2 separate regions of the Homo sapiens genome follow, and region 1 is linked to region 2. The links come from fine-mapping of genetic effects on gene expression. A gene starts in region 2. The other region holds a variant in brackets. All regions are shown on one strand. Distances are from middle to middle. Region 1 overlaps TPD52-MRPS28 (TPD52-MRPS28 readthrough). Region 2 holds the start of TPD52 (tumor protein D52).

Evidence for each region.
Region 1: its variant is fine-mapped to the expression of TPD52 in adrenal gland (GTEx, PIP 0.91).

The regions. Positions count from the first base shown.
Region 1 is chr8:80,087,745-80,103,624 of GRCh38, forward strand. The region is part of intron 1 of TPD52-MRPS28 (TPD52-MRPS28 readthrough); the gene reads right to left. All of the region lies in intron 1 of TPD52 (tumor protein D52), which reads right to left. It overlaps LOC105375918 (a long non-coding RNA gene), which reads left to right. Exons shown (of 3, transcript XR_007060978.1): 2 at 285-368; 3 at 3,962-4,480. Among named protein-coding and RNA genes, the nearest start is that of MRPS28, 65 kb to the left of the region's middle. RefSeq lists enhancers at 13,998-14,498, 14,261-14,390, 14,801-14,850, 15,564-15,673. The variant C/CCA (reference allele first, on the strand shown) is at 6,205.
Region 2 is chr8:80,164,485-80,180,364 of GRCh38, forward strand. It overlaps TPD52 (tumor protein D52), which reads right to left and starts at 7,080. Exons shown (of 8, transcript NM_001025253.3): 1 at 6,941-7,080. The coding sequence starts at 6,959. TPD52-MRPS28 (TPD52-MRPS28 readthrough) reads right to left here and starts at 7,080. Exons shown (of 7, transcript NM_001387778.1): 1 at 6,941-7,080. The coding sequence starts at 6,959. LOC105375920 (a long non-coding RNA gene) reads right to left here. Exons shown (of 4, transcript XR_929095.3): 4 at 13,170-13,469. RefSeq lists a silencer at 6,912-7,241.

The DNA of each region.
Region 1 (15,880 bases), 77 kb before region 2:
CATGCTGGTCACATCTTCCCAGAGGGAGACCAGTGGGGACCCTGTTGCACAGGGTGAGAGGGCAGAGAGGCTGAGAGGTTAATGAACACCCCACACCCCACACCTCTTCATTCCCCGACACTGTGCCACAATAAACAAACCTTGACTCCAAATAAAAAGTACTTGATTTTAAGTATGAAATTCAATTTAAAATCACAAGGGTAGATGCTCTCTTATTTACAAAATTTCTCAGCTAATCCTCAAAACCTCTGTGAGGTAAACCTCTGCCTCTCCCTATTTTTCAGAGGGGAAACAAGACAAGGACAGTTCCTGTAAACCTGTCTTTGGGCATAGAGCTAGCAAGTAAAGGAGCCGCAGTTTGAAGCCTGGTACGTGCCTCCAAGTCCCTGTCCTCTCCATCCTGTGGCTGTAGCCTAGAGCCGGGCAGTAAGGATAAGCCAGTCCCTCACATCTAATGGCCCTGGGGATCTTGCTGTGATGCAGAGTCTGCATCCTGGTGATGGGAGGCTGCTGGCCCTGGAACCACATGGGATCACACTTGGAGTAACAAGGTGATGGAAGAACTCGAATGGAGGCTGGAGAGTAGGAATTTGGTTTTCGTCAGATTAAAGCAACAATTCTTCATTAGAATTTATTTAATCCCTCAATAACACGAGGTTAGTCATGTTATCTCCAATTTCCAGAGGAGTGAGCATAAGGAACTGAGAAATGAAGGAAGCCACCCTACAGTGGTCATTTTCCTCTCACTGCATCTAGGCCGTGGGGAGCCAAGTCGAGTAATTAGGAATGGGAGGCCAAAGCCACGTGTCAGAAAGATCATTCTCACCCCTGTCTGAAGCTGGACTGCCGAGGGGAGAGGGAAGTCAGGACAGCTACCCAGCAACAGCGCCAAGGGTGTTCTGGACTGAATTGTGTCTCCCCAGCTTCATGTGTTGAAGCCCTAACTCCCAATATGGCTGTATTTGGAGATGGGGTCTTTAGGAGGTAATTAAGATTAAACAGGGTCATAGGGTGAGGCCCTAATCCAATAGGACTGCTGTCCTAGTAAGAAGAGACACTAGGGATGCTCACGCAAAAGGCCTTTTTCACAGAAAAAAGGCCAGGGAGGACATAGCTAATTTTTTGTATTTTTAGTAGAGACGGGGTTTCACTGCATTAGCCAGGATGGTCTCGATCTCCTGACCTCGTGATCCGCCCGCCTCGGCCTCCCAAAGTGCTGGGATTACAGGCGTGAACCACTGCGCCTGGCAGCTCTCTGTCAACCAGGAAGCAAGCCCATGCCAGAAACCTATCTACCCTGCCACCAGCACCTTGATCTTGGACTTTCAGCCTCCAGAATCGTGAGAATATAAATTTCCATTGTTCAAACCACCTATTCTATGGTATTGTTATTGCGGCCCAAACCAACTAATACAAAAGGCATGTGCCCTGCATGGAACAGAAGCGGGAACAGCAAAGCAAAGACACACTGCATGACACCATGAACAGACAATCAACAGATGCTGGAGATCAACTGGAGGACTTGGGTGACGGGCAATGAGAAGCCAACGTGTGATACCCCAGCAGGAGTTGTAAAGGACAGTGACCGCATTAATGAAGATGGTGGCAAAAGAGAGGCAGGACTGAAGAACAGAGAGAAGAGACTTTAGGTGATAAGAGAATGAGCTGCATTTTGGCAGATTTGGTTAATAGAGCTCACAAGACTTCTGGAGTAAATGGCCAGCCTGAGGTTAGAAATTAAACTTCTATCCTCAGGGAAAAAGTTAGGGGCTAAGATATAAAATGTGGGAAACCCAGAGATCGTCAAAAAAAAATTTGAAGAGAAGAGAGGCCCTATGAAAAGGAGTGGAAAAATTAGTGAACACCTACAATCAGCATGCAGGCCAAAGAGCCTAAAAAGGGCAAGCAATGACCTTTAATGATGACAATAATTATGACTTATCCTTAAGGAACCCTTACTATGTGCCAGACATTCTTCTATGCACTTGCATCAATTTTATGGGGTAAGTTTTTCCCTACCCTTATCTTACAACAAAACTGAGACACATCAAAGTTAAGTGTCTTGCCCTAGGCACAGAGCTAGAAAGTGGTAAAACTTAGGATTCCAATTCCATTGCTCTCAAGAAGCAAAACATCTGGAAGAAAACCTTGAGTGACCAATGTCACAGGAATCAAGGGAGGAGAGAAACTGGATAAGATCAAATGCTAAAGAGACGCAAGAAGAAGCCACAGGACTTGGGGTCTGGTGATCTCGCACTGAAGTTTTAGTGAGAGTGATGGTAGATGTCAGATAAGCAGAAGTGGTAGGCAGTGGAGGAAAGGAAAGGGAAGAAGCGAATGAAAAGAAGTTTTAAAAAGTATTTTAGGCCAGGCATGGTGGTTCACACCTATAATCCCAGAACTCTGGGAGGCTGAGGCAGGAGGATAGCTTGAGGCCTGGAGTTCAAGGCCAGCATGGGCAACAAAGCGAGGCCCTGGCTCTACAAAAAAAATAAAAAATAAAAATTAGCCAGGCACAGTGGTGCACACCTGTAGTTCCAGTTACTCAGGAGGCTGGGTCAGAAGGGATCACTTCAGCCCAGGAGTTCAAGGCTAGAGTGAGCTACGATGGTGCCACCTCTTTAAAAAACAAATAAATAAAGTTTTCAAATGTGTGTGTTTAAGAGCAAAGAAGACAATGCAGAAGAGGAAGCACAGTGGGGATGGGGAGGGGCGGGGCAGACCAGGGGCCAAGGAAGGTTCAGGGATGCTGTCCCTCACCCAGGGGCATTTCAGTTCCTAAACTGAATGAAACTAGATTAAATCATGTTGGCATTCTTTTAAAAATATGTGGCAGTTTTCAGATTAGAAACTTTGCATTAGAAACTTAGGAAATATTCCCTATGGGAATGCCACTTCTTTTCTCCTTTATTTTCCATCCCAATGGGGGAAAAAAGACTATTATAGCACAGTATTATAAGAAAGAAAAAAAAAAAAACTATCCTCTTTGGAGCCTCTTCTCTAGAATAAAAAGGCATAACCTAGCAGGCATATGCAAATTATTTGGAACTAAATGTAAATACTCTTAAGTGATAAAATGGATTTGTATTTTTAAAGAAATCGTTTATTTGGCCCACTGACTTGCAAAGAAATTCTCACTTGTTAGGAACCCCTAACAGTCTACTTAGAATATTCTTCTGCCCTCTCAAAATAACTAAAATTGAGTTAATGTCAGCAGCCAGGACAGAAGGTTTTTGTTCTTCACACAGTGTTTCCTTCAAATACTGAAGAGCAAGAGTGACATATAATAAGCATAAGATGTCATTCCCTCTCTCAACCTATCTCCAAACATGTCGTCTGGATAAGCCTGTACCTGGGAAAGTCAGAATCTGTTGAGAAGTCTCAAGAATGCCTGAATTCTCTATCACAAGGAGTCACAGACTGGATTCTAAAATACACAAAAGAGGCTGGGCGCAGTGGCTCACACCTGTAATCCCAGCACTTTGGGAGGCTGAGGCGGGCATCACAAGGTCAGGAGATCAAGACCATCTTGGCTAACACGGTGAAACCCCGTCTCTACTAAAATTACAAAAAAATTAGCTGGGCGTGGTGGCGGGCACCTGTAGTCCCAGCTACTTGGGAGGCTGAGGCAGGAGAATGGCCTGAACCCAAGAGGCGGAGCTTGCAGTGAGCCGAGATCGCGCCACTGCGCTCCAGCCTGGGCGACAGAGACTCCATCTCAAAAAAAAAAAAAAAAAATACACAAAAGAGCATTACTATTTTCACTTCGGTCATCTCAGTACATGGTCCTGCCACTGTCATTGTCAGATCATGAGAACACCAGAAAATAGTGGAAAGAGAGCTTGATATTTGTCATATACTTAATTAGATACAATAGACAGATTTTTTCATTTTAGAAATAGAGTTTGAGTTGAAATGTTATGGTCACTCCACATACTGATGGGTGATTCCATGATTACAGGCTCAGGTAAAAGATCTCCAGCCAGTGCTTCTCAAATAACTTTATTACATACCAGAGCCACCAGGGGAGCCTGTGGAACTACAGATTCTGAGTTAGAAAGTCTGGGGTGGAGCCCAAGACTCTTGCTTTCTGGACAAGCTCCAGGTGATTTCTGATGCTGCAAGTCTGGCTTTAGATAACAGCTGCTAAGTTTGCCTGAGGATGAAAGCTTGAGTAAACTCTGAATACTGATGTTACAGGACTCCAGCACTTTCTAACTATATACATTTGAACATAAGAGACAGATTTTATAGCTAAAAAGGTTTGGCTTTTTGTATATATTTCTTATTGATACAAATATGTGTACATGTATATGGGGGCACAAATATGATACTCTATCACATGCTTACACTGTGTAATGATCAAATTAGGGGTTTGGGGCATCTATCACCTCGAGTATTCGTCATTTCTGTGTGTTGGCATTATTCCAAGTCCTCTTTTCTAGCTATTTTGAAATCTACAATACATTGTTGTTAACTATGGTCATCCTACACTGCTATCGAACATTAGAACTTATTCCTTCTAAGGTATGTTTGTAACCATTAACTAACCTCGTTTTATCCTCCCCCCACCCACTGACACATCTTCCCAGCACAGCCACTGTGAAAAACAGTATGGAGATTTCTCAAAACAATTAAAAACAGAATTAACATATTAATAGATCCAGCAATCCTACTACTGGGTATTTGCCCAAATGTAAAGAAATCAGATGTCAAGGATATTTGCACGTGCGCGTTTATTGAAGCACTATTCACAATAGCAATGATATGGAATCAACCTATATTCATTAATAGTTGAATAAAGAAAATTGTGGTATATATACACAATTTATTACTACTTGGCCATAAAAAAATGAATCTTGTCATTTGCAGCAACATGGGTGGAACTAGAGGTCATTATGTTAAGTGAAATAAGCTAGGAACAGAAATACAACTGTCACACGTTCTCACTCAAGTGGAGCTAAAAACTGTAGATCTCGTGAAGAGAGAGTAAAATCACAAATTCCGTGTTATACACATTCTACCACAATTTAAAAAAAAAAAAAGATCACATAATTATAAGAGGTGAGATTGTCACTCACACTTTAAATTACTGCCAGAGGCTGGGAAGAGGAGGAGTTGAGCAGGGGTGGGGGTAGGAATAAAGGATGGAATAAAGGTGGAAGGGGGAATAAAGAATATATTTATTACCAAGGAAGTGTACATTTCAAATGGTACAGATGGTAAATTATATACATATATTTTGTCTCAATTAAAAAATATAAAAACTATAAAAAATTAAATGTTAAAAATAAAAGATTTTGTTTTTTGTTTTTCTGAGACCCTAACAGTTCACAAAGCAGGCAAGTTCAGATAGGACAAAACCGGCTGTGTCACAACAGGGTGTGCACATGCTTGGTCTTTTCAACGGGATAATTATTTCGACTCTGGAATAATAATAATAATAATAAACAGAGTCCAGAATAATGGCTCAGTAATAAGAGAATGAAAGCAGGCCATTCTTACTAAAAGTATTAACAATGTATTTGAGAGTACAGTGGTCTCTATGGTGAGATTACTGGAAGATTAAAGAGGTGTCATCCAAGCTAAATGTTTCCAATTTGCTGAATGAGTTTAAAGACAGCTCTACAGGGGTGCATAAACACAAGCGACTGTCACAACCCTAAAAGGAATAAATGAACTGGTGGACTACATTTTAATGTGGAAAAAACTTCCACAATGCTTACACAGCTATTCCTGGCAATGAGAGGCTCATATGAAACACTTTTCCTTAAGGGAATGGGAGTTTCTAGAGAACAGTAGGCACTTATTTAAAATTAATATTGGACCACAAACTTCTATCATCAGCAAGCTGAGACCTAACAAACAAGATCAAAATACCAAGTCATACATTTAGGCAGTTAAACTTGCTTTTAAACTGTAATAAGCTAATTAGATGCATTCAGTGGGTCAACCATTAAAAAAAATATACACTGCACAAATCTTGTCAATTTTTCATTAAATTTTATTAAGAAACAAGAGTCCTGTGCCAAAAGTGATAGCTTCACCATCTGAACCTGCTACTCTGGTTAAGAAATGACATTTCCAATTCCAAATTTCACATACTTTCCTTTATAAAGACAATAGCAGAAGACCAATGCTACATGTAAACTCAATAGTAGCCCATTATCTTGAAACCAAATCAGTGTGTGGAAAGCTTCAAAA[C/CCA]TTTCTTTGCCTTTTGGCACAAGACTGAAGACATGAGATTTTTTTTAACATCTGACCATAATAACTGCTGTATTAATCACTGTGAAGGCTCCTTGTTGACTTTTCTCAGAGTTTTATAAAACATCGCTATCAAACAGGTATTTATCAAAATAGGCATATAATTTTATTTATTCCAGGAAGCTCTCTCAGTGTTAAAAGGATAAGATAATTAACGTTTAGATGGAAAGAGAGCATGGGATGGAAAAATGCTCTCCTGAAACACAGCCAGATCTATGAAACCATACAATTACTGTCATGTCATCTCTGAAAGATCAAGTTAACAATGTGTATGATTTAATAATCTTACTTAATATGGCCAGGAATGCTAACAAATCGCCAAGCCAATTTGTTCTTATTCTTACGCAGGTAGCTAGACTACACCTCCCAGGCTCCTTTGCAGTTAGATGTGGCCATGTGACTAAGTTCTAGACAAAAGAAAATTTTATATATATATATATATATATATATATATATATATATATATATATATATATATATGTATGTATATATAACATGAGGGAGACATAAAGATTGTTGCCAATAGCCACTGAGATTTTGGGAGTTACTGATGGAAACATATTGCCAAATATAGCTTCAGATGTATTTCTTCAAATTCCTCTTTTAAAATGATCATATCCCCAGGTAAGAGTTTTGGAAACAGATAGTGGTGATGGTTACACAATGATGTGAATATGATGAATACAACTGAACTGTATACTTAAAAATGGTTAAAATCACAAATTATATCTTATATACACATATTCTACCATAATTTAAAAAAAAAATGATCACTTAATTATAAGAGTTGAAATAAGTTGGAACCATGATTAAGAAGTATTTTAAATACTCTTTCCTGAAAATATAAGCAAGACCTTTGTGTCCAGACTTGTTCAGAAAATGCTCTAAGTGAAGAAGAGGAAGCCCTGGGAGAGGCAGGCCTGGTTAGGTTGTCACAATAAGGAGGGTAATTGTCAGCAGGAGGAGAGATGCTGGGACCAAGAATATATCACAGATCCTTCAATTGCACTCCCAGGTATTTACCCAAATGAGCTGAAAACTTATGACCACACAAAACCCTGTAGTGAATGGTCATAGTGGCTTTATTCATGATCACCAAAAACAAGAAACCACCAAGATGTCATTCAGTAGGTGAATGGATAATAAACTGTGGTACATCCAGACAGTGGAATATTATTCAGCACTAAAAAGAAATGAACTAGCAAGCTGTGAAAAAACACAAAGAAACTTTAAATGCATATTATTGACAAAAGCCAATCTGAAAAGCCAAAATACTGTAAGATCTCAACTATGTGACATTCTGGAAAAGACAAAATTATGGAGACAGTAAAAAGATCAATGGTTACCAAGGGCTGAGGGGGAGGCAAGCAGGAATGACTAGGTTGGGGTGCTGGTGATTTTTAGGGCAGTGAAAGTATTCTGTATGATACTGCAATGGTGGCTACATATTATGCATCTGTCAAAATCCATTGAACTGGACAACACTAATAAAAACTACAGACTTTAGTTAATAATAATGTCTCAGCATTAACCAAATGTAACAAATGTACCATATGAATTTAAGGTGTTAATAATAAGGGAAACTAGGGGCGTGAAGGAACTCTGCACTACTTGTTCAATTTTCTGTAAACCCAAAACTGCCCTAAAATACAAAGACTAGGCCGGGTGCGGTGGCTCATGCCTGTAATCCAAGCACTTGGGAGGCCAAGGTGGGAGGATCATGAGGTCAAAAGATCGAGACCATCCTGGCCAACATGGTGAAACTCCGTCTGTCTCCACTAAAAATACAAAAATTAGCTGAGTGTAGCGGCATGCGCCCGTGGTCCCAGCTACTCAGGAGGCTGAGGCAGGAGAATCGCTTGAACCCAGGAGGCGGAGGTTTCAGTGAGCTGAGATCGCGACACTGCACTCCAGCCTGGCAACAGAGTGAGACTCCATCTCTACATACATACATACATACATACTATCGGCCAGGCACAGTGGCTCACGCCTCCAAGCCCAACACTTTGGGAGGCCAAAGCAGGCATATTGCTTGAGCTCAGGAATTTGAGGCCAGCCTGGGTAACATGACAAAAACCCGTCTCTATGAAAAATACAAAAATTAGTTGGGCATGGTGGTGTGCACCTGCAGTCCCACCTGCTGAAGAGGTTGAAGTGGGAGGATTGTTTAAGCCCAGGTGGTCAAGGCTGCAGTGAGCCATGATTGTGCCAATGTACTCCAGCCTGAGTGACAAGAGCAAGAACTTGTCTCAAAATAAATAAAGACTATCAAACACACACACACAAACACACACACACACACACACACACACAAACTTCTCCTAGTCTGCCTGGGGTAAAATACTCAAGCACCAAAACTCATCTGCTTGGACTATGGTCAAGGCTTCCTAAGTATCTGAAGTAGCACCAAAGAAAGCATGTTTACATGTACAGGCATACTCCTGTTTTACTGCACTCCACTTCATTGCACTTCACAGTATGTTTTTTACAAACTGAAGGTTTATGGCAACACTGTGTCCAGAAAGTCTATCTATTAGTGCCATTATTCCAGCAGCACATGCTCACTTTGTGTCTCTGCATCACATTTTGCTAATTCTCTCATTATTTCAAACTTTTTCATTATTATTATATCTGTTATGGTCATCTGTGATCAGTGACCTTTGATGTTACTATTGTAATTGTTTTGGGATGCCACAAACGACACCCATACAGGATGGCAAACTCAATCGATAAATGTTTGTGCTCTGACTGTTCCACAAACTGGCCATTCTCTCATCTCTCTCCCTCTCCTCAGGCCTCCCTATTTGATGAGACACAACAATATGGAAATTAGGCCAATTAATGTCCCTACGATGGCCTCTAGGTGTTCAAATGACAGGAAGAGTAGCACATCTTTCACTTTAAATCAAAAGCTAGAAATGATTAAGCTTAGCGAGAAAGGCATGTCAATAGTCTCTGTAGGCCAAAAACCAGACCGCCTGCACCTGCCAGGTTTTGAATGCAAAGAAAAAGTTCTTGAAGCTTCGAAATTACAAGTGCTACTCCAGTGAACACATGAATGATAAGAGGGCAAAAACAGCCTTATTGCTGATATGGACAAAGTTTGAATGCTCTGGATAGAAGTTCAAACCAGCTCAACACTCCCTCAAGCCAAAGCCTAATCCAGGGCAAGGTCCTACCTCTCTTCAATTCTATGAAGGCTAAGAAAGGTGAGGAAGCTGCAGAAGAAGTCTGAAGCTAGCAGAGGTTGGTTCATGAGGATTAAGGAAAGAAGCCATCTCCATAACATAAATGTATAAGGTGAAGCAGCAAGTGCTGATAGGGAAGCTGCAGCAAACTATCCAAAAGATCTAGCTAAGATAATTTATGAAGGTAGCTGATATGGTTTAGATCTGTGTTCCCATCCAAATCTCATGTCAAATTGTAATCCCCAGTGTTGGAGGAGGGGCCTGCTGGGAGGTGATTAGATCATAGGGGCAGATTTCTCCCTTGCTGTTCTCACAATAGTGAGTTCTCAAGAGATCTGATTGTTTAAAAGTGTGTAACACCTCCCCACTTTGCTCTCTTCCTCCTGTTCCACCCATCTAAGACGTCCCTGCTTCCCCTTTGCCTTCCACCATGATTCTAAGTTTCCTGAGGCCTCCCCAGCCATACTTCCTGTACGGTCTGTGAAACTGTGAGCCAATTAAACCTTTTCTTTATAAATTACCCAGTCTCAGGTAGCTCTTTACAGCAATGCAAGAACAAACTAAAACGGTAGCTACACTAAACAACAGATTGTCTATGTAAATGAAACAGCCTTTTATTGGAAGAAAATGCCCTCTAGAACTTGCAAAGTTAGAGAGGAGAAGTCAATGCCTGGCTTCAATGCTTCAATGGACAGGCTGACTCTCTTCTTAGGAGCTAATGTAGCCAGTGACCTTAAGTTGAATCCAATGCTCATTATCATTTCAAAAGTTCTAAAGCCCTTAAGAATGATGCTAAATAAATCTACTCTGCCTGTGCTCTAGAAATGGAATAACAACGCCTGGATGACAGCCCATCTGTTTATAATATGGTTTACTGAATATTTTCAGCCCACTGTTGAGAGCTACTGCTCAGATAAAGATTTCTTTTCCAAATATTACTGCTCATTTACAATGCACCTAGTCATCAAGAGCTCCGATGGAGATGTACAAGGAGATGAATGTTGTTTTCATGCCTGCTAATACAACATACATTCTGCATACCATGGATCAATGAGTAATTCCTATTTTCAAGTCTTATTATTTAAGAAATCCATTTTGTAAGGCTACTGTGGCCAATCTGCCAGAGATTGCTCGGGTGGGTCTGGGCAAAGTACATTAAAAACCTTCTGGAAAGGATTCACCATTCTAGATGCCATTAAGAAAGTTCATGTTTCATGGGAGGAGGTTAAAACATAGCATAACAGGAGTTTGGAAGAGGGTGATTCCAGCCTTCATGGATTACTCTGAGAGGCTTAAGACTTCAGTGGAGGAAATAACTGCAGATGTGGCAGAAATAGCAAGGGAACTATTACAGAATTACAAGTGGAGCCTGGATATGTGATTGAATAGCTGCAATCTCATGATAACACTTGAAGGGATAAGGAGTTGCTTCTTATAGATGAGCAAAGATGAAATCTACTCCTGGTGAAGATGCCGTAAACACTGTTGAAATAACAACAAAGAATTTAGAATATTACATAAACTTAGTTGATAAAGCAGCAGCAGGGTTTGAGAGTTTTGACTCCAGTTTTGAAAGAAGTTCTACTGTGGGTAAAATGCTATCAAACAGCATTGTATGCTACAGAGAAATTTTTTTGTGAAAGGAAGAGCCCATCAATTGCCACGGCCAGCTCAACCTTCAGCAGCTACCTCCCTGATCAGTCAGCAGCCATTCTCATTGAGGCAAGACCCTCCAGCAACAAAAAACATTAGGACTCACTGAAGACTCACTGACCGTTAGCATTTCTTGGCAATAAAGTATTTTTAAACTGAGGTAAGTGCACAATTTTGTTTTGTTTTGTTTTGTTTTGGGGGCGAGGGTATATACACAATTTTTTAGACATAATGCCTATTGTGCATTTAAAAGACTACAGTATAGTGTAAACATAACTCTTACATACACTGGGAAACCAAAAAATGTGTGTGAGTCGCTTTATTGCTATATTTGCTTTAATTATGGCTGTCTGGAATCAAACCCACAATATCTCCCAAGGTATTCCAGCAGTTCCAATGGAAAGGCTAAGCTCATAATAAAGGAAATAACGGCCCTATTATAATATCAAATGCCATTATTAATGCAAAGTAGACAATCGCCTGACCAACTGTAGCTAAATTCTTGGCATTTATGAAAAAACAAACAAACAAACAAAAAACACAATGTTTTGAATATCTGGCCAAGCTAGAGATGCTGCAAATGATGGGAGGGTATTACCATCTGCAAAGAACCTTCCACCACAGGTGAGGGAGGTTCACAAAACTGGATGGTGGTCTAACATCTTTTTTTTTTTTTTTTTTTGAGATGAAGTCTCGCTCTGTCACCCAGGCTGAAGTGCAGTGGTGTGATCTCGGCTCACTGCAACCTCCGCCTCCCAGGTTCAAGTGATTCTCCTGCCTCAGCCTCCTGAGTAGCTGGGACTACAGGAGCGTGACACCACGCCCAGCTAATTTTTGTATTTTTAGTAGAGACGGGGTTTTACCATGTTGGCCAGGCTGGTCTTGAACACCTGACCTCAAGTGATCCACCCACCTCAGCCTCCCAAAGTGCTGGGATTACAGGCGTAAGCCAGCGCGCCCAGCTGGTCTAACATCTTTTTAAAATGAAACAGAAACAGATATCTATTGAATGCAGAAGTAGAACAAGTTTAAGGCCTACATTTAATTCTTAAAGTCTCTTTTCTTGGCAAATATTTGGTGAAAACAGCCTATCAAGATGACAAACCTATTATGGCCCAATGATACAACAAATACTGGCAGCCCTAGTTCCTTTCTGTGGATTTCTAAGAAGGCAGGCATGGGCCCCAGCATCTTCTCTAAGTAGTGTTCTAAACATTTAACCTGCATGTTTATCAAAACACGCAATTTTAAATTTAGATTCTTGATAAAGAGGATTTGATTTAGAAAGATAATCCTCTGGGGAAATCTCGCCTCCAAATTTTAAGAACTGAAAATCAAAGGGCACAAATTGCAGAAGGGGGCAAAGTGACACACAGAAACAAGCTCTGAAATAAACCAAAGTAATATCTTAGTGTGAAGATGATTGCTTTAAATAAGCTGATCCAAGCCCTAATTATTTTCTCTGGCAATTTCTTACTCTTAAACAAAAACAGAAACACTATTCATACTCCCCTTTACAGATTGTACTCTGCTGCTTATGAACAAGCAGACAAAGAGAAGCAAAAAGGCAACAGCACCTTCAGCATTTCTCTCTAAAAACCAATTGTTTTCGGAACAGAAACTAGAATCTGCCTCACTGAAAAACCCTACCTGAAACCAGGTTCATACTGGCTGCTGGATAAAGGACTTTTCAGCAGGTGGCATCTCAGAAATTACTTACTAAGTCAGCTCTTTCCAGTCACCTAGCTAGCCAAAGTTTATTAGGTCATTTGTACAGTCAGGGTTCTCATATCTCACAATTATGGAGGCTAAGTAAGAGGTCCCAAGACCTGCAGTTAGTAAGCTGGAGACCCAGAAGAAACTGTGGCATTAGATTCTAGTTCAAGCCTGGGTCCAAAGGCAGGAGAAGACCAATGTCCCAGCTGGAAGACAGTCAGAGAGAGGTTCCCTCTTTCCCAGCCATTTTGTTCCAATCAGGCCTTCAATGATAGGATGAGGCCCATCCACATTCGGAGAAGTCAATCTGCTTTACTCAGTCTACCAATTCAAATGTTGATTTCATCCAAAAACAGCCTCAGACACACCCAAAATATTTGACCAAATGTCTGGGCACCCCATGGCACAGTCAAGTCCACACATACATTTAACCGTTACATCATTCCTGAGCTCAGAGTGTTGCCATACCAAGTGTTACAGTGAGATATTTACTATTGAACGTATTAGCAGCAGGGACCCAGACAACAACATATTTAAAAGAGAAGAAAAGATGTATGGGAAGAGAAATAATGTAGATAACAGATAAACATAATAAAGAATTAAGGCCGGGCGCGGTGGCTCACGCCTGTAATCCCAGCACTTTGGGAGGCTGAGGCGGGCAGATCGCCTGAGGTTAGGAGTTCGAGACCAGCCTGACCAACATGGTGAAACCCCGTCTCTACTAAAAATACAAAAATTAGCCAGATGTGGTGGCACATGCCTATAATCCCAGCTACCCGGGAGGCTGAGGCAGGAGAATCACTGGAACCCGGGAGGTGGAGGTTGCAGTGAGCTGAAACGGCAACACTACAATCCAGCCTGGGCGACAGAGTGAGACTCCCAGCTCAAAAAAAAAAAAAAAAAAAAAAAAAAAAAGAATTAAGCAACTGTGTTAATCTGTTTGCATTATTAAAAAGCAATAACTGAGAGTGGGTAATTTATAAAGAAAATAGGTTTATATTTGGCTCATGGTTCTGCAGGCTGTACAGAAGCATGGCACCAGCATCTGCTTCTGTGAGGGTCGCAGGAAGCTTCCACTCATAGTGGAAGGTGAAGGGAAGGCAGGCGCATCACATGGTGAGAGAAGGAACAAGAGAGGGACCAGGTTCTTTGAAACAGCCAGCTCTCGTGTGAACCAACCGGGTGAGAACTTGATCATTACCAAGGGGAGGGCACAAAGTCATTCATGAAGGATCCCCCCCATGACCCAAACACCTCCCATGAGGCCACACTTCCAACACCGGGGAGTATCACATTCCAACATGAGATTTGGAGGGAACAAACACCCAAACCGTGTCAGCAGCCAAGTGAAATTGTGTGTGTGAGAGAGAGGCAAAGAGAAAGAGAAACAGAGGAGGAAGGCAGACAGAGAAAGAGAGTGCATGCAACTAAGCCTGTGTGCACACACTGAGGGGCTCCAGGGCATTGGGAATGAAGGAGTACAACTCGACTCACAATAGGAATTGCAGCATGTCCTAGTTATCTAAAACAAATTACTCCAAAACTCAGCAGCTTAAAACATTGAACATTTACCATCTCACAGATTCTGAAGGTCAGGCATGAGGGAGCAGCTTAGCTGAGTGGTTCTGGCTCCGGATTTCCCCTGGGGTTGCAGGCAAGCCCTCAGGCAGGGTTGTAATCTCCAAAGGCTTGCTTCCAAGCTCACTCACTTTCAAGCTCATTCACGTAGCTACTGAGGAGCCTTTTTCTCCTCTCGATGTTGACCTCTTTATGGACCTGATCACTACATGTCAGCTGGTTTTCCAGAGAAAGTGGTTGACAGAGAAAGAGACCCCTAGATGGAAGCCACTGTCCTTTATCTTAGAAGTGACATATCATTTCTGCTATATTCTACTGGTCACACAGACTAAACCTGGTAACATGTGGGAGGCAACTACACGAGTGTGAAGACCAGATCATCACAAACCATGCTGGAGGCTGGCTACAGAGGGTAGCAGAAAAATACCTCGCAAATAGAAAAGGCCTTTTAGAACATCGTGTTGTGATATTGCAAAATATATATTTGGTCTGTCCCCGTTTCCTGACATAGAGCTCCTAAAATCTTTGGAATCTCCAGAGTGATCAGAGTGTCTTTGCGTATTAATGAGATAATTAGTAGCTGGGGGTTCCTAGATAGCCTCAAGATGGGGTCTGGTGGCCAGGGGAACCAACCATGTGATTAGAGGGCCGGAAATTTCAGTCCCACTCCCAACTTGTTGGGAGGGGAGAGGGGCTTACAGTTGAATCGATTAACCAACAGCCAATGATTTAATCAACCATGCCTATGTAATAAAGTTTCCACAAACAAACAACAACAACAACAAAACAGTTCTGGGAGCTTCCAGATGGCTGAACCCATGGACGTTCCTGGAGAACGGCATGCTCAAAGGAGACATGGAAGCTCCATGCCCCTTCTCCCACACCTCGCCCTATGCACCTCTTCCATCAAACTGTGCATATTTATCCTCTGGCATATCCTTTTTAATAAATGGGTAAATATCAGAAAAGTGTTTCCCTGAGTTCTGTGAACCACTCTCCAGCAAACTGATCAAACCCAAGGAGGTGAGTCATGGAAACCCCAATTTACAGGCAATGTTAAAAAAAAATTCTGATTGAGTCTGACTGACTAGCTCTGTCACTTTAAATTCGTGTGTGAACAAACCAAAGCCCAATGTAAACAGTAAACTGAAACTAGAAACTGCACCAATCAGAAATCACCAACTAACCTCTAACTAGAAACTTTCCACTCTAACCAATCAAAATTGGTTTCATTTGTGTTGCTTCTGCAAATACTTTATAAAAGTTTCCCCTCTTGCCCCTGTGGGCAGAGTGCTAGCCCCTTGTGGTCTGATGCTACCCCATTCACAAACTGCTGAATGCTCAACTAAACTGCTGAAAATGTAAATGTGCTTAAGATTTTCTTTTATCAGATCTGATATCAGAAGTGGGATCCAATGGACACTACATGATAATGACCTCTGGGAGCAACAAGCAAACAGATACAGTTACCCCACAGAGCCCCT
Region 2 (15,880 bases):
TGAGGAAAGATTTAAACATAAAAAATAAAACCATAAAAGCATAAACTCAAAGTGAGGGAGGCATTTCTAAAAATGATTCAAAAGCTAGAATCCATAAATGAAAAGAGCCATTAGTTAGGCTGGGTATGGTGGCCCACTCCTGTAATCCCAGCAGCTTGGGACGCCCAGGTGGGCAGATCACTTGAGGCCACAAGTTCGAGACCAGCCTGGCCAACATGGCAAAACCCCATCTCTACTAAAAAATACAAAAAATTAGCCAGGCATGCTGGCACGCACCTGTAATCCCAGCTACTTGGGAGGCTGAACAAGAACTGCTCGAGCCTGGGAGGCAGAGGTTGCAGTGAGCAGAGATCATGCCACTGCACTCCAGCACTCCAGCACTCCAGCCTGGGTGGCAGAGGGAGACAATGTCTCAAAAAAAAAAAAAAAAAAAAAAAAAAAAAGAGCTATTAGTATTTCTTCTTGGTTAAAAAAAATCACTATAAAGTCAAAAAAGGTATGACAAACTAGAAAAAAAATTAACAACTCATCTCATAAACGGGGTACATTCTATAAAATACAATAGAAAAATTGGCAAAAGATATGGCCAGATATTTCACAGAAAATGCCATGTAGATTGTAAACATATCAAAAGAAGTAAACTACCTTTATATTAAATATATATAGTAAGACTTATACTGAGAAACCATTTTTCCCCTATAAGACAAGCAACAATGGAAAAGTGTGGCAACATCCTGGCCACATGGCAAGGGAAAGCAAACGCTCGCACATGCTGGTGGAAGTATAACTGGCACCACTTCTATGGAGCAGAATTTGGCACTATCAAAATTGAACAGCCACATTCTTCTAAGAATTCTTCCTACAGACACACTGGCATTTTTATGGAATGACTTGCATACACATACATTTGCTGCAGCTTTGTTTTAACAGCAAAATATCAGGGTGAAGGAGTTCAGGACACAGCATCCCAAAACATTCCACTTTAGCATGCTGATTATTTTGGGCTAAAGGCACTTGAAAAACAGCAGGTGTTAAGAAGGGCACCCAAACCTCCTCTCTTTTTCCTGAAAGCAGAAGATGAAGCTCCCATATGAAAGATGTCCTCCCTCTACCAGGAAGAAAGAAACATTCTTATCACAGGAAGTCCAAGCCCAAAGAAATCTGCATAAAGAAACCTTGCTAAACTAAACCTTACCTTCCTAGTTACTTTTCCACAACTGCCACTCTTTTTTTGACCTAGTATATAATCGATCAGGCCAAGCCACTTCCTTGAGTCTTCATTCCTCTTGTGAGGGTAAAAGGTATGTAATACATAAAAAGCACTAAATAAAATTTGCATGCTTTTCTCCTGTTAATCTATCTCATGTTGGTTTAATTCCTAGGCCTCGCCAGAAACCCTAAAAGGGTAGGGAGAAATTTTTCCTCCCCTACAAGGCAAAATGTAAATGTTCATCAACAGGGAACAAGTTAAATATTGTCTATAACAGTATATAAAATGTTACATCTATAAATAAATACATACAAATGGCCATTAAAAATGGAGCTGCTCTAGGCCAGGCGCAGTGGCTCACACCTGTAATCTCAGCACTTTGGGAGGCTGAGGCGGGAGGATCACTTGAGGCCAGGAGTTCGAGACCAGCCTGGACTACATGATGAAACCCATCTCTACAAAAATAGAAAAATTATGGCGTGGAGGCACACGCCTGTAGTCACAGCTACTCAAGAGGCTGAGGCAGGAGAATCACTCGAACCCAGGAGGTGGAGGTTGCAGTGAGCCAAATTGGTGCCATTGCACTCCAGCCTGGGCAAGAGAGAGAGACTCACTGCAACCTCCGCCTCCCAGGTTGAAGCGATTCTCCCGCCTCAGCTTCCCTAGTAGCTGGGATTACAGGCATATGCCACCACACCCGGCTAATTTTGTATTTTTAGTAGAGACAGGGTTTCTCCATGTTGGTCAGGCGGGTCTCCAACTCCCGACCTCAGGTGATCCGCCCGCCTTGGCCTCCCAAAGTGCTGAGATTACAGGCATGAGCCACCACATGCGGCCATTAAAGTGTATTTTTTAAATACATTTAGGGTTTTTTTAAAAGGGCAAGTTATAAAATGCAATATTCAATAAGAAATTTTGTGATTTGTTGGCCGGGCACAGTGGCTCACGCCTGTAATCCCAGCACTTTGGGAGGCCAATGAGGGCAGATCACCTGAGGTCAGGAGTTCGAGACCAGCCTGACCAACATGATGAAACCCCATCTCTACTAAAAATACAAAAAAATTAGCTGGGTGTCGTGGCATGCGCCTGTAGTCCCAGCTACTTGGGAGGCTGAGACAGGAGAATTGCTTGAACCCAGGAGGCAGAGGTTGCAGTGAGCCGAGATCACGCCACTGCACTCCACCCTGGGTGGCAGAGCGAGACACTGTTAAAAAAAATAATAATAAAATTGTGATTTGTTTAAAGCATAGATACATGAACAGGTATAAATTAATATGCTAACTATGATTTCTCATTCTCGCACAGGATTATGGGTAATTTTCTTTTTTCTCCATCAATATTTCTGATTTTTCTAAAATAGACAACTATTCTTAGGTTCCAAAAGGCATTTTTACATTCTTTTTTAAAACTTCCACTAAATATTAAAATTCCTTAATCCCCTGGAAACATTTTTCTAATAAAAATACATGGCTAAAATTATGGTTTCAGTACAGCTGGTACCCACTAGTTTAAATAAAATTTGGGAATGTCTCAGAAGAGAGATTTCACAACAGTCAATAATTAAGGCAGAAATAATTAACCCCAAAAGGAAAATAATCTTAGCCTACAACAAAAGACTTAGTAGCACAGAAGTTCCAGGGATTTGGGTGTTCTTTTTGGTTTTGCACTGTGAGTGAGCGTATTTGTTTTTATTACATGCATACATTATTCTGTTTTGAAATCTTGCTAAAAGATCACAACCCCTCCTACCACTCAGCTATTCCCCTAGGGACTAGGCAGCCTGCCACATAAAAATAAATGCAGGAAGTGAAGAAGAGCTAACAAAGACATCAGCACCATATGGAAATCACGAAACTGTTGACCAAATAAATTAACAGCCTGGATGGGGTGGGTCACACCCAGAGACTTGGGAGTAGACCCTCAAAATTATTATCCATTATTCTCTACATTTGCTTTATTTTTAAATAAATGATACCCCACATTTCTGTTATTTATTTCTAAGGCACAATTACAATGTTAAAATGATAGTGACATATTATTGTGTTATTCTTTTTTTGAAGCCTTTCCTCTCTAGTTTTTTGGCCTCAGGAACCATTCCTCTTCCCCTTAAAATTATAAAGTTGTTTTGCTTTGTTTAAATTCAAACTAGTATAATGTGTAGTGGGCTACGTGACTGTCACTTCTATATAACAGTGCTAAACTAAAGGTTATGACTAACATGAGAGCACTCAAGTATACATATTTATTCAGCTCCATAAAAGGTAGTCAGGAGGGTTTTCTACACAATGTATGCTCTAGTTAGCAACACTGCTCTATCAAAGTAGGAAATACCACACACAGTAAATGTGCTGCGCTGAGCTTAATGCTTGGAAACTCTTGAAAGGCATGATGCAATTTAACGTATTTTAAATCATTTGATGTTCACTGAACTCTCACTGTAAGCAGAGTATTGTATTCAAGCCCTAGGTATGAGAGAAAGTAGAAAAACAACAGAATCTGGGCCTGATACTACAGAGCATTAGAATACTCGTGGTTGAAAACATAAGGAAAACTCAGTGTTTATTTTAAAAATTTACAGCTCTGTTAAGTACAATCAGTAGCAAGAACAGATTTTTTGATAACTTCACATAAGAAGGTTGGAAGAGGGATTTTCAATAGATAAATGCATGTAAGACAAGAGGTAGGGCATTTAATTTTACAACTAGAGTTTCATTAGGGATTTTTTAAGGGACAAATATAAGAAAACTCCATGTACATTAAAAACTATTAAAAGTTCAACAAATCCTAAAATTTTCTGCTTTGGTTTTAAGTATGTTGCCAAAATCACAATTCAGGAGACAATCACAGAGTTTGATAAACCTTATTTCAGCCAACACAGTTTGCTAGTGAACACCAGGTTTAAAATCCCAGGTTGTGCCTTTTCCAGTTTAAGGCAGGAGTCTTGCTCCAGATTCACTTAAGACTGAGTCATCCACTCTACTAGTTCTAAGATCTTCCATGTAAAGTTATCCTCCAAGCCCAGCACTGCCTTATCAGCAACTCTCTGGCTAAGTTCTGCTTCTTGAGAATAGACAGGGAAAACAGAACAGGAGAAAGTGGGAAACAAGAGATGGATTTGGAGGGACACAGAGGTTACTATGGCTGGGGCCTGCTCTTGGACACTTTCCTCACTCATCTTAGGCAGTCAACACATATTTCTAAGCACCTACTGTGTGCACTGGTAACATAAAGATGAAAAGGCAGGTAGGCAGGTGGAAGCAAGAGTAAGGAATGGCCAGGTGGTTTTGTTTTGTGTTTGTTTGTTTTTTGAGATAGAGTCTCGCTCTGTCGCCCAGGCTGGAGTGCAGTGGTTTGATCTAAGCTCACTGCAACCTCTGCCTCCCAGTTTCTAGTGATTCTCCTGCCTCAGCCTCCTGAATAGCTGGGACTACAGGCCGGTGCCACCGCGCCGAGCTAATTTTTGTATTTTTAGTAGAGACAGGGTTCCACCTTGTTGGACAGGGGTCAAACTCCTGGCCTCAAGTGATCTGCCTGCCTCAGCTTCCCAAAGTGCTGGGATTACAGGTGTGAGCCACCGCACCCAGCCTTGGCCACGTTGTTCTAACACAGCAAAGCTTTGGAGTAAATGAACTGACCCTCCCAAGGCAGTGCCTCTTCTTTCATTCGGAGCAGAGTCCTCCACCTCACCCAAAGAACATATGGGAAAATTATAGACACGAAAAGACTCATCTTACAAGATAAAGATTTGAAAAAAATATGTCTTAGAATTAGACACTTAAACTAGTCCTATAAAAACTACACAAGAAGTTGGAATACTGCAGTGCTACCAATGACTGTTGATTCTTACCACCCAAGCTAGAACACAAACACTACTAAAACTAGTTACTCCACTCACGTAAGTAAAACACAGCCGTTTAATTTACTTTGACAAGTACCAAACATAGTTATTCTAAAAACATCATTATGTCAAACGACAGTGTGTAACAGATTAGTATACAAATACACATGGGCACGTTTGTCGTCATGTCTCCCCCGTCCTGCGTCGCCCCCATTGAAAGCCAGACAGACATAATGCTGACTTACATGGTGGCCCCTAAGCCGGCTAACAATATATACAAGACATGTGACAAGCTTTCTAACTCAAACATTTGCATGTCTACTATGTACAAGTCATCATGTTATCCCACTCAGGACAACCAAAGATGAAATGTTTCTAACCTCAAGAAGCTTAAAATTTAGATAATAATATGTATGTGTATATATACGTTATACAGGTAATGTATAATATATATATACACATAGGTAACACATATAAAGCATATTGTATGTAATGTTTGTAAGCACTTGTGTTAAGTCTGAAATTAATCTGAAGGGGAGCGAGGAAAGAGCTGAAAGACTCCAAAGAGTCTATCTTACAAGTAAATGAAAGTAAAGTACAGGCCTGGCCCAGTGGCTCACACCTGTAATCCCAGCACTTTGGGAGGCTGAGGCGGGTGGATCACCTGAGGTCAGGACTTGGAGACCAGCCTGGTCAACATGGAGAAACCTCTGTCTCTACTAAAAATACAAAATTAGCCGGGCTGTGGTGGCGCACACCTGTAATCCCAGCTACTTGGGAGGCTGAGGCAGGAGAATCACTTGAACCAGGGAGGCAGAGGTTGCAGTGAGCTGAGATCCCGCCACTGCACTCCAGCCTGGGCTACAGGTGGAGACTCAAAAAAACAAACAAAAAAAACACCAGAGTCTGAAAAAAATAAAGTACAAGATAGTATATTTGGAATATGGTTTGATTTACATAAAAATGCACACATGACGGCACATACTGGAGGAAAATAAGCAATACATGAAAACTTGTGTCAGGGCTCAAAACAGGAGTGATTCCTATCCTCACTTCCCAAGATTACCTACCTTGTTTTCTTTTTTCAGCATTTATGTATCTTTTTAAAAGCGTGCCACACACATCTGCGTACAGTCACAGGCTTATGATCAGCAGAGATCTCTAGGATGAAACTATTTAAATCTGAAAACCATGGCCTACTATTGCTCTATTTGGGGGTAATTTCACTTGAGCTGTTTTCAGAAGCAAGTGCACCCAACGCTATGGTAAATTAGACTGAAGGTTTTGTGTTGTGGGATTTCACCCTTCCTACGAAAAGCTCTCTTCCCTCAAACCCACAGACACCACTCCACAATCTGGGGGTTTCTAGTATGATAAATATCTGCCTCCCAAACCCCCCATGGGTCATACGCCACCAAAAATCCTAACCACCTGAACTTAGAAGAAGGCAGAAAGTCTTAATTTATGAGGGAGAGAGGGGTTTCCCACCTGGAGGGACGAGAGCGACTCACTGTCCTCTGTTCCTGGTTCCAGTCACTTACAGGAGCTGGCTGCGCCGTGCTCCCTTCACGCGGCTTTCCACCCAAAGCGCATCACGGCCGCCAGCCCCTGACGCTAGCCCCTTCGCCACCTCCCAGAACCTTCTCTCCCTCTCCCCCACACACGCACACTCACACTCACACATGCAGTCCCATCTGCCCCCGCCAGAGCCGCTCCTTCCAGGGCCCCAGGATGCCAGATCCGGATCCGGGAGATGCAACTTGCGGCGCCGGCCCAGGAGGCTCGGCACCTGCTCGAGCCGCCGGGCCGCGCTCAGCCCCGCGCCGAGCCAAAGCCCGAGTCCAAGCCCGAGTCCAAGCCCGAGCCCAAGCCCGCTGGGTCCGCGCCCTCACCTTGCTCGCCGCGGTCCATGTCTCCAGCCCGCCGCCTCGTGTCCTCTGCAGCACCCCCGCCTGCAGCCCGTCCCGGCTCGGATCGCCCGCCGCGCCGCGCAGAGCTCCTCCTCGCCTCCGCCGGCGACTCCCGCGAAGTCCCCACCCCCAGAGGCGTCGGGCGCGGCGGCGCCGCCCGCCCTCGGCCTGGAGCGCTTTCCTGGGGCGTCACCCAACCACCTGACCCGGTCGACCTGTGCGCTCCGCCACGTCGGCGCGGGCGGCGCAGCGCTAGGAGGGCCGGGCGCACCCCGACTCCCGCACCGGCTGGAAGTCGGCCGGGAGGAGGGAAGAGGACGGCGAGGAGATGGACTCGGCCATGGAGGCTGCGTGGAGCCTGCTTGGGAACCGGGATGGCGTTTGCCTTCCACCATCAAGTTATTTATAAAATCAAAAGTTTCCTCCGAGGCCTTGGAGATGCCCTTTCTCTGCATCTGCGAACACCTACTTTCCTATACTTACAGTAGGAAACACAGGAACGTTATTTAGAAATGCCAGTGGCTCTTTTCTCTCTGTATTTTATTACCTAAATAATGCCCTATGATGTCTTCTCTAACTAGGTCATAAACCAGCATAGGTGAAAATTGCAAAGAATCTCTTGAAAAATTATATAGTCTTTTCCATAGAATGCGGATTTTTTAGGTGACTAGGAAGATTTTCATATAATAAAAATCTGTTTTGAGTGCGGGACTGAGGACAACACTAAAATGAATTAAATCAAATGAAATTAATTAAATTAACCGAAGGTCAGAATTATCAGCAGAGATCTTTGGAAAATGCGTGTTGAGGCGTCATGTCCGTTGATCAAAGGACAGTTTGAGGTTCCCGTAACAATCCAGTTCTTTTCATTAGTAGCGTTAACAATCTGTTTTCACAGGGTTTTGCAGTTACTCGTCTTCCATGAAGTCACTTTGATTGTATGGGTCATGGTCTTCAGGTGGTGTCTCAATTTCGTAAGCTATCTGAGGCTGCAAATGAAGTGGGGCTTCTTTTCTGTGTTGCTTGACGTTTAGGCCGAAGCATTGTGTAGCACTCCACAGACAACAAAGAAGCACTTATTCAGATGTTTTAAAATTACTTGTAGTTACCTGAAGTGACTGTATGCTATTAATATCTCTATACTGTCGTGCTGTATGTAAAGTGTAGCTCTCTCCAGCCTGCATCTTCCAGTGTCTTCTGGGGACGTTTACTGTTTGACTCAACCAGATGTGATCTCTTCTATTTGAGTCCTTCTACTCTGACTGCACTTGGCTCCTCTCCTGTGGCACTCACCCCAGCACTGGTGCCAGGATGCTACCAGTGTATGTTTCACAGTCCTATTAGGTTACAAGCTCCAGGTGGTAAAGTCCTTAAAATGGCCTATTAAAAAAATCAAAAAACAGGCCTGGCACGGTGGCTCACGCCTGTAATCCCAGCACTCCGGGAGGCCAAGGCGGGTGGATCACTTGAGGTCAGGAGTTTGAGACCAGCCTGGCCAACATGGTGAAACCTTGTGTCTACTAAAAATACAAAAATTGTCGGGCGCGGTGGCTCACGCCTGTAATCCCAGCACTTTGGGAGGCCGAGGCGGGCGGATCACGAGGTCAGGAGATCGAGACCATCCTGGCTAACACGGTGAAACCCCATCTCTACTAAAAATACCAAAAATTAGCCAGGTGTGGTGGCGGGCGCCTGTAGTCCCAGCTACTCGGCAGGCTGAGGCAGGAGAATGGCATGAACCCGGGAGGCAGAGGTTGCAGTGAACTGAGATCACGCCACTGCACTCCAGCATGGGCAACAGAGTGAGACTCCATCTCAAAAAAAAAAAAAAAAGTTCCAGGTGGGCAAAGATTATTTTGGTCATCTCTGCATCCTTTAATTCTACCATGCAATTAATAAATATTGTAATTTTAAACCAGGCATGGTGGTGTTTGCCTGTAAACCCAGCTACTCAGGAGGCTAAGGCAAGAGGATTGCTTGAGCCCAAAAAGGTGCAATATTTTTTAAAAAATTTTTAATGTAACATAAAGGTAAATTTTGGCATCAGCAGAAAATTCTGTATGTGGTAAAGAATTTTTGACTAGCTGATGCTGAGATCTATTGTATAGAAATAAACATCTGGAGAGACAATCTCTCAATGTACTAATTTGTGGACAAATAAATAGCACTTGAACGTGAGTGTCCGTTACAAATATTTATTGTTTGTATCTGTTTAACTTACTATATAGTGATGAACTTGTTATGTATGCTGAAAGGAAAAAAAGTCTTATCTTTTGAAGAGCTTATAGAGTAGTTCACATGCAGCAGAGATGGCAAATAGCCTACCTGATAAACAGCCTTCCTGTTTTCCTTCCTAAGATAACCTAAATATTGTTTGGAGTGGCAATGTGCCCAGCTGAAACACTGGGCACTTCAAACTGCCTTGCAGCTGGAGGTGGGTCTCTCTCATTAATGTCCAATGAGATGTGAGCAAACTGTACTAATTGGAATCTCCAAGAAAGCATTTAAAAAGAAGACAGACTTGGCAGCATTACTTGGCCCTTCACCCTTCCCATTCCTGCTTAGAGGGGCAATAGCCATTTTGCAAACACGAGGAAGAAATTCACAAGCCAAGGACGGCAGAAAGAACCCAAGAATCCATGGCATCAGAGACCTGCTTCTTACTGGAAAAAAATAAATGCCTGACTTTGTAAGGCCACTGTAGTTGGCTTTCTGTTAGATGGAGCCAAATGCAATCCCAACTGATAGAATGCGCCATATAGAAAATGCACTCTGGCATGCACCCACGTAGGTGGATACATGCAATCCTGAGCCTTAGAGATAGATTAACTTAATTTTCTCTTTGAGGTTAAATGAGCACTGTTCATACTATAAATATCCTAGTACATGATATTTCCACAAAAGCCTGCTTTTCTCTTACATCTTCCTACTACATGTATTTCTACAAAAGCCTGCTTTTCTCTTGTGTCTTCGTACTACTTCATTTGTTTTCTTCTGACAGAATCTGTGCTTACAATTTATGCTGTGTTACTTCTGAAATGAACAGGTCTTATGTTTTAGCACTCTGAGGAATCTCTGGAGAATGGCTAGCACTTAAACAGAGCACCTGGGTGCATTGAGTTGAACCACATTTAAAAGGCTCAGTACAGGAAAGAAACACTAGATTTACTTTGTGGTGTTATTGTTGATGGGAACGTGGATTTTTTTTAAGTTTCTTTTTTTAAGTTTCTTTTTTCAGAATACTCATTTGTTGGTGAAATTTTTACAAGAAATTGTAAACTTCCCCTGAAACAAATGCATTGAAGCAAATGAAGGTATTGAAAAGGATAGATAGAAACCGACTTATGTAAGTGGAAAAACTCTATACTCTGCCCTTGTTGTATGTATCTTCCTTGACCGATAGCCAGCAGAAATCACACAGAATGTGTGGCAAGTGGGATGCTTTCTGTAGTCTTACCCCTCATATTTGTGGGGCCTGGGGCGAGGATACAAATGGAGCCCCTGGCTTTCTCTTCTGGCTCTGTCCTTTCACTTTGACTCTGTCCTGCACCAGGCTGGCCCACTCCCTTGTGCGTGGATGCCTTAGGACATATCCCATCTCTATCCACCCTTTCCCATCAGCCGAGCCTTGGCCATACCTCCATTCTAGGGTTGCACTCAAAAGGACTGTCCTGGGAGAAAAGCTGAAGGCCTTGACAACAGATGTTGGCCAGTTTAGGCAAGAGATTCTGTAGTTATAGGTATCAGATGCACCGTTGATAAAGAGGGGGTAGATATTTGATGCTAGGGACTGCTCATCAAGGAGAACAAAAGTGGGAAGTCTCTATGGGACCCAGGGCGCCCAGTGGAGGGGCTTCAGGTAGCCTGGGTCTAGGGTTGCTGCCAGATAAGATAAAAGGACACCCAGTTCAATTTGAATTTCAGATAAATGACAAGTAATTTTTTAGTGTAAGTATATCCCTGGCCAGGAGTGGTGGCTCACCCCTGTAATCCCAGCACTTTAGGAGGCCAAGGTGGGTGGATCACTTGAGGTCAGGAGTTCGAGACCAGCCTGGCCAGCGTGATCAACCCCTGTCTCTACTAAAAATACAAAAAATTAGTTGGGTGTGGTGGCACATGCTTATAATCCCAGCTCCTCAGGAGGCTGAGGCAGGTGAATCACTTGAACTCGGGAGGTGGAGGTTGCAGTGAGCCAAGATTGCACCACCGTACTCCAGCCTGAGTGACAGAGCAAGACTTCATCTCAGAAAAAACCCAAAAAAGTATACCCTACAATATTTGCAACATACTTATACTAAAATTTATTATTTATCTTAAATTCTTAGCAAGTTGTCTTATATTTCTATTTGCTAAATCTGACTACCCTACCTATGTCAAAGGGTAGTTCTGGCTCTCTGATTGTTCAAACAAATGAAGGCATATGATACCACAATTTTGAAAATTATATCATCATCCAGGAGAAAGATAGACTCTTCCTGCTTGAATCATGGTAGTAAACAAAGGGATGAAGGTTAGGAGGCCCAAGAGATCAAGAACAAGTTTTGGAGAAAAATTGATTTAATGTCAGGTAATGAACATTTTTTTGCTTAAGATAATTGAATAGCCATCTTATTGTATTCTCTTAGCCATCCATGTAAGAGACTGACTGTGAATATGAAATAAACAACTTTTAAAAATGTGTAGAAACAGGTATTGGCAGGAAAGAGTACTTAACACTAATGGAGGTTGGACACATAAATACCTAAACATTAACAGGAAACGATCTCACACTATTGATTTTGGCTACATTAAGAAAAGCCATAGACACTTAATCTTTCTTGTATGTTTTTAAGCCACTCTGGATTCTGTGTATTTATCAAATTACATATGGGAACTGGGTAGGGAAGGGAGTGCTGGGAGAGCCATTGTCCCTTTTCTCCTGGAGTCTCCACCATCACCGTTCTAATCTTTTCATCTCTCTCTAAGATTACTCCAGGGTATAAAATGCATTAGAGATATGTATATTTAACAATTAAATGATTAACAATATTTCTAAATTTTTACACGGTGTTCAACTCAGTGTCTTACAAACCATTTCACCCCTGCAAAGATAGCTAGTTTTCCAGAATGCCAATGGTCCTCTGGCAGAAATGGTGTAGGCCAGAATGGCAAGTGCCCAGGGTCTTTGATGAAGAGCCAAATTCTGTGCCACTGTCACCAAAATATAACTCTGCAAGACCAGAAACAACTGAAAACTCTGGAGTGGATTTATCTAAACCATCACTTTAAACTATCTGGCCAGGCACAGTGTCTCATATCTATAATGCCAGCACTTTGGGAGGCCAAGGAGGGAGGATCATTGGGGGTCAGGAGTTCAAGACTAGGCTGGCCAACATGGCGACTAAGATACAAAAATTAGCCAGGAGTGGTGGTGGCACATGCCTGTAATCCTAGCTACTTGGGAGGCTGAGGCACAAGAACAGCTTGAACTCGGGAGGCAGAGGTTGCAGTGAGCAGAAATGGCACCACTGCACTCCAGCCTGGGTGATGGAGTGAGACTCTGTCTCAAAAACAAAAACAAACAAAAACATCACTATGGATCTGAGTGTGGTGGCTCAGACCTGTTATCCCAGCACTTTGGAAGGTTGAGGTGGGAGGATTGCTTGAGTCCAGGAGTTTGAGACCAGCCTGAGCAACTTAGTAAGACCTCCTTGTCTCTACCAAAAAGTCAAAAGTTAGCCAAGCATGGTGGTATGTGCCTGTAGTCCCAGCTACTCAGGAGGCTGAGGCAGAAGAATTGCTTGAGCCCGAGAGGTTGAAGTTACAGTGAGTCAAGATTGCACCACTGCACTCAGTGTGGGCAACAGAGCAACACTCTGCCTCAAAAAAAAAAAAAAGAAAAGAAAAAAGAAAAGAAAAGAAGAAGAAAGAAAAGAAAACATCACTATCTTAGGCCTCTCACTTAAGCTTCTCTGGTTCACTGTCCTCATCTCTAAACTATGGAGTCATACTTTAGGATAAAGATGGCATATCAGACACATTTTTATTGATTGATTGATTGAGACATGGTCTCAGCTGTTGCCCAGGCTGAAATACAGTGGCAGGATCAATGCAGCTCACTGCACTGATGTGCAGCTCACTGCAGCCCCAACCTCCTGGGCTCATGCAGTCCTCCCATTTCAGCCTACTGAGTAGCTGAGACTACAGCCATGAACCACAGCATCCAGCCTTATTTATTTTTAAAATGTTTTTTATTGAGATATAACTCATGTACCATAAAGCTCACCCTTCTGAAGTAAAAAATTAAGAGGTTCTTGTAAATTCTCAACATAGATTCATTCTTACTTCCTCTCTATGCTGCTAAAATTACAGTAAAGAGATAAACTCACAAGGACAAAGAGAATGTGAGTGTCTACGTAATGATAATTGATCTTGTGAATCTGAGAAGGCCAAATGCTAAACTGGGAAAGCCAAGAAGAACCTAATTTCCACTGCAGCACTTCCAAAAACCTCAGGACTTGGCATCAGGTATCTGTGGATGTAGAAAGAAAGTGAGGCTCAAAACAAGAGGATTGGTTGAAAGTTTACTTAAGAAGTTGGGTCCCATCCCCTTCCCTATTCTGCAAGAATACTAAAGTGGCTTCTCTGGAGAAGGAAATTTGACAATCTCTTTACTAGAAGACTAAGTACATTTGAGGCTGAGGATTTCCTAATACAGGCAGAAAAATTCATTAGCAGTTCACATCATGAATGCTGTTTCTCCAGCCTTGCTCTGCTTGGTTCTCAGGATGCAAACAGCCAGGCATATACTGTGAAAGCAGGAGACTGAAAGATCCATCTCTCAGGAATTTAACCAACCTAAGAGTAAAGAACCAAAAATGTTGACATTGGATAAACCAGATCACCTTACCCTCAAATCTATGGTCACAAATCTTGCCCACGTACCTAAAGAGACCAGTCAGCTGCTTCATGCTCAGGGCAGGCAGCCATGATCCAGAGAAAAACCCTGATATGGTTTGACTCTGACCCCACCCAAATCTCATCTTGAATTGTAATAATCCCTATGTGTCAAAGGCGGAGCCAGGTGGAGATAATTGAATCATGGGAGCAGTTTTCCCCATATTTTTCTCGTGGAAGTGAATAAGTCTCACAAAATGTGATGGTTTTATAAATGGGAGTTACCCTGCACATGTTCTCTCTCTTGCCTGCTGCCATGCAAGACATGACTTTGCTCCTCTTTTGCCTTCCACCATGATCGTGAGGCCTCCCTAGCCATGTGAAACTGCGTGTCAATTAAACCTCTTTTCTTTATAAATTACCCACTCTCCAGTATGGTTTTATTAGCAGCGTGGGACCCAACTAATACAAGTCCCTTAATGGAAGATAAAGACCAAAATAAACACCATAAAAAGGCAACTTACAGGAAACAAACTATACAAGGAGAAGGAAACAAACAGATCTTTAAAGCTATTGTTATTATATTCAGAGAGATAAGTGAAAATATCCTAAACATGAGACAAAAATAGTTTGCTCTATAAAAAAATGGAGCATTCAGAGAAAAACCAGTTGTTAGAAATTATATTATAGCAGACATTAAAACTCCTGTGGTAGGTATCATTTGGGATAAAGATCTCCAAGGATGTCTGTGTCCTAATCCCAGAACCTTTGGCAAAAAGGGACTTTACAGACTTGATAAAGGTTAGAGATCTTGAGAGAGGAAGATTATCCTGGATTATCAGATGGACCCACTCTAATAACATGTGCTCTTTTGTTTTTGTTTTTTGAGACAGGGTCCCACTCTGTCACCAAGGCTGGAATGTAGTGGCATGATCTTGGCTAACTGCAGCCTCGACTTCCAGGATTCAAAAAAATCCTCCCACCTCAGCCTCCCAGGTAGCTGGGACTACAGATGAGCACCACCACACCCAGCTAATTTTCATATGTTTTTGTAGAGACGGGGTTTTGTCACGTTGCCCAGACTGATCTTAAACTCCTGAGCTTAAGTGATCTGCTCACCTTGGCCTCCCAAAGTGCTGGGATTACAGGTGTGTGCCCCTGCACCCCACCTACATGTGCTCTTAAGAGCTGAGAATCTTGTGACTGAGAGATGCCACAACAGAAAAAGAGGCAGGAGAGTTTCGAAAGCATGAGAGGACTTGACCCACTCTTGCTGGCTTTGAAGATGGAGAAAAGGGGACCATGGGCCAAGGAGTACGGGTGACCTCTATAAGCTGAATGAGCCCTTAGTTGACCACCATCAAGAAAACAGGACCTTAGCATACAATCATGCGACACCGAATTGCAACAACCTGAATATGCAAGAAACAAATTTTTCTCAAGAGCCTCTAGAAAGAACATACCTTGTTAGTCCTAGATACCTTGACATTAGTCCTGTGAGGCTCATGTTAGACTCCTGATCCTCAGAACCATAAGTTAATACCTCTGTGCTACTTTAAGCCACTCCATGGTTGGTTTGGAGTATAAAGTAAATTTTCTAGAGAGAAGACCAAAAAACAAAGGTATGAAAAATAAAGGGGAACATATAAGAAAATCAGAAGACTGATCCCAGAGGTCTAACATCCAAAAAAGAGGCCAAGAGAAAGACATGGAAGAAACAGAAAAAAAGAAGGAATCAGTGAAATAATTCAGGGAATTTCCCCAGACTGAAGGATTTCCAGATTGAAAGGGCTCACTGAGAACACGGCACAAATTTATAAAGTTCAGAACACTGGAGATAAAGACCCCACAAGTTCTAGAGATGGAAAAAAAATGGTCACATTCAAAGTAAAAGGAATAACAATGGGTTTGGAGTCATGGACAACAAAACTAGAAGACAATGGAGGATTAGGCTTAATTTACTGAAGAAAAGTGATTTCTACCTTATTTTCTTCTTAGATTGAAAAGACAGAATGGGAGCAGGTAAGAAAGTTAGGAATGAGTAAT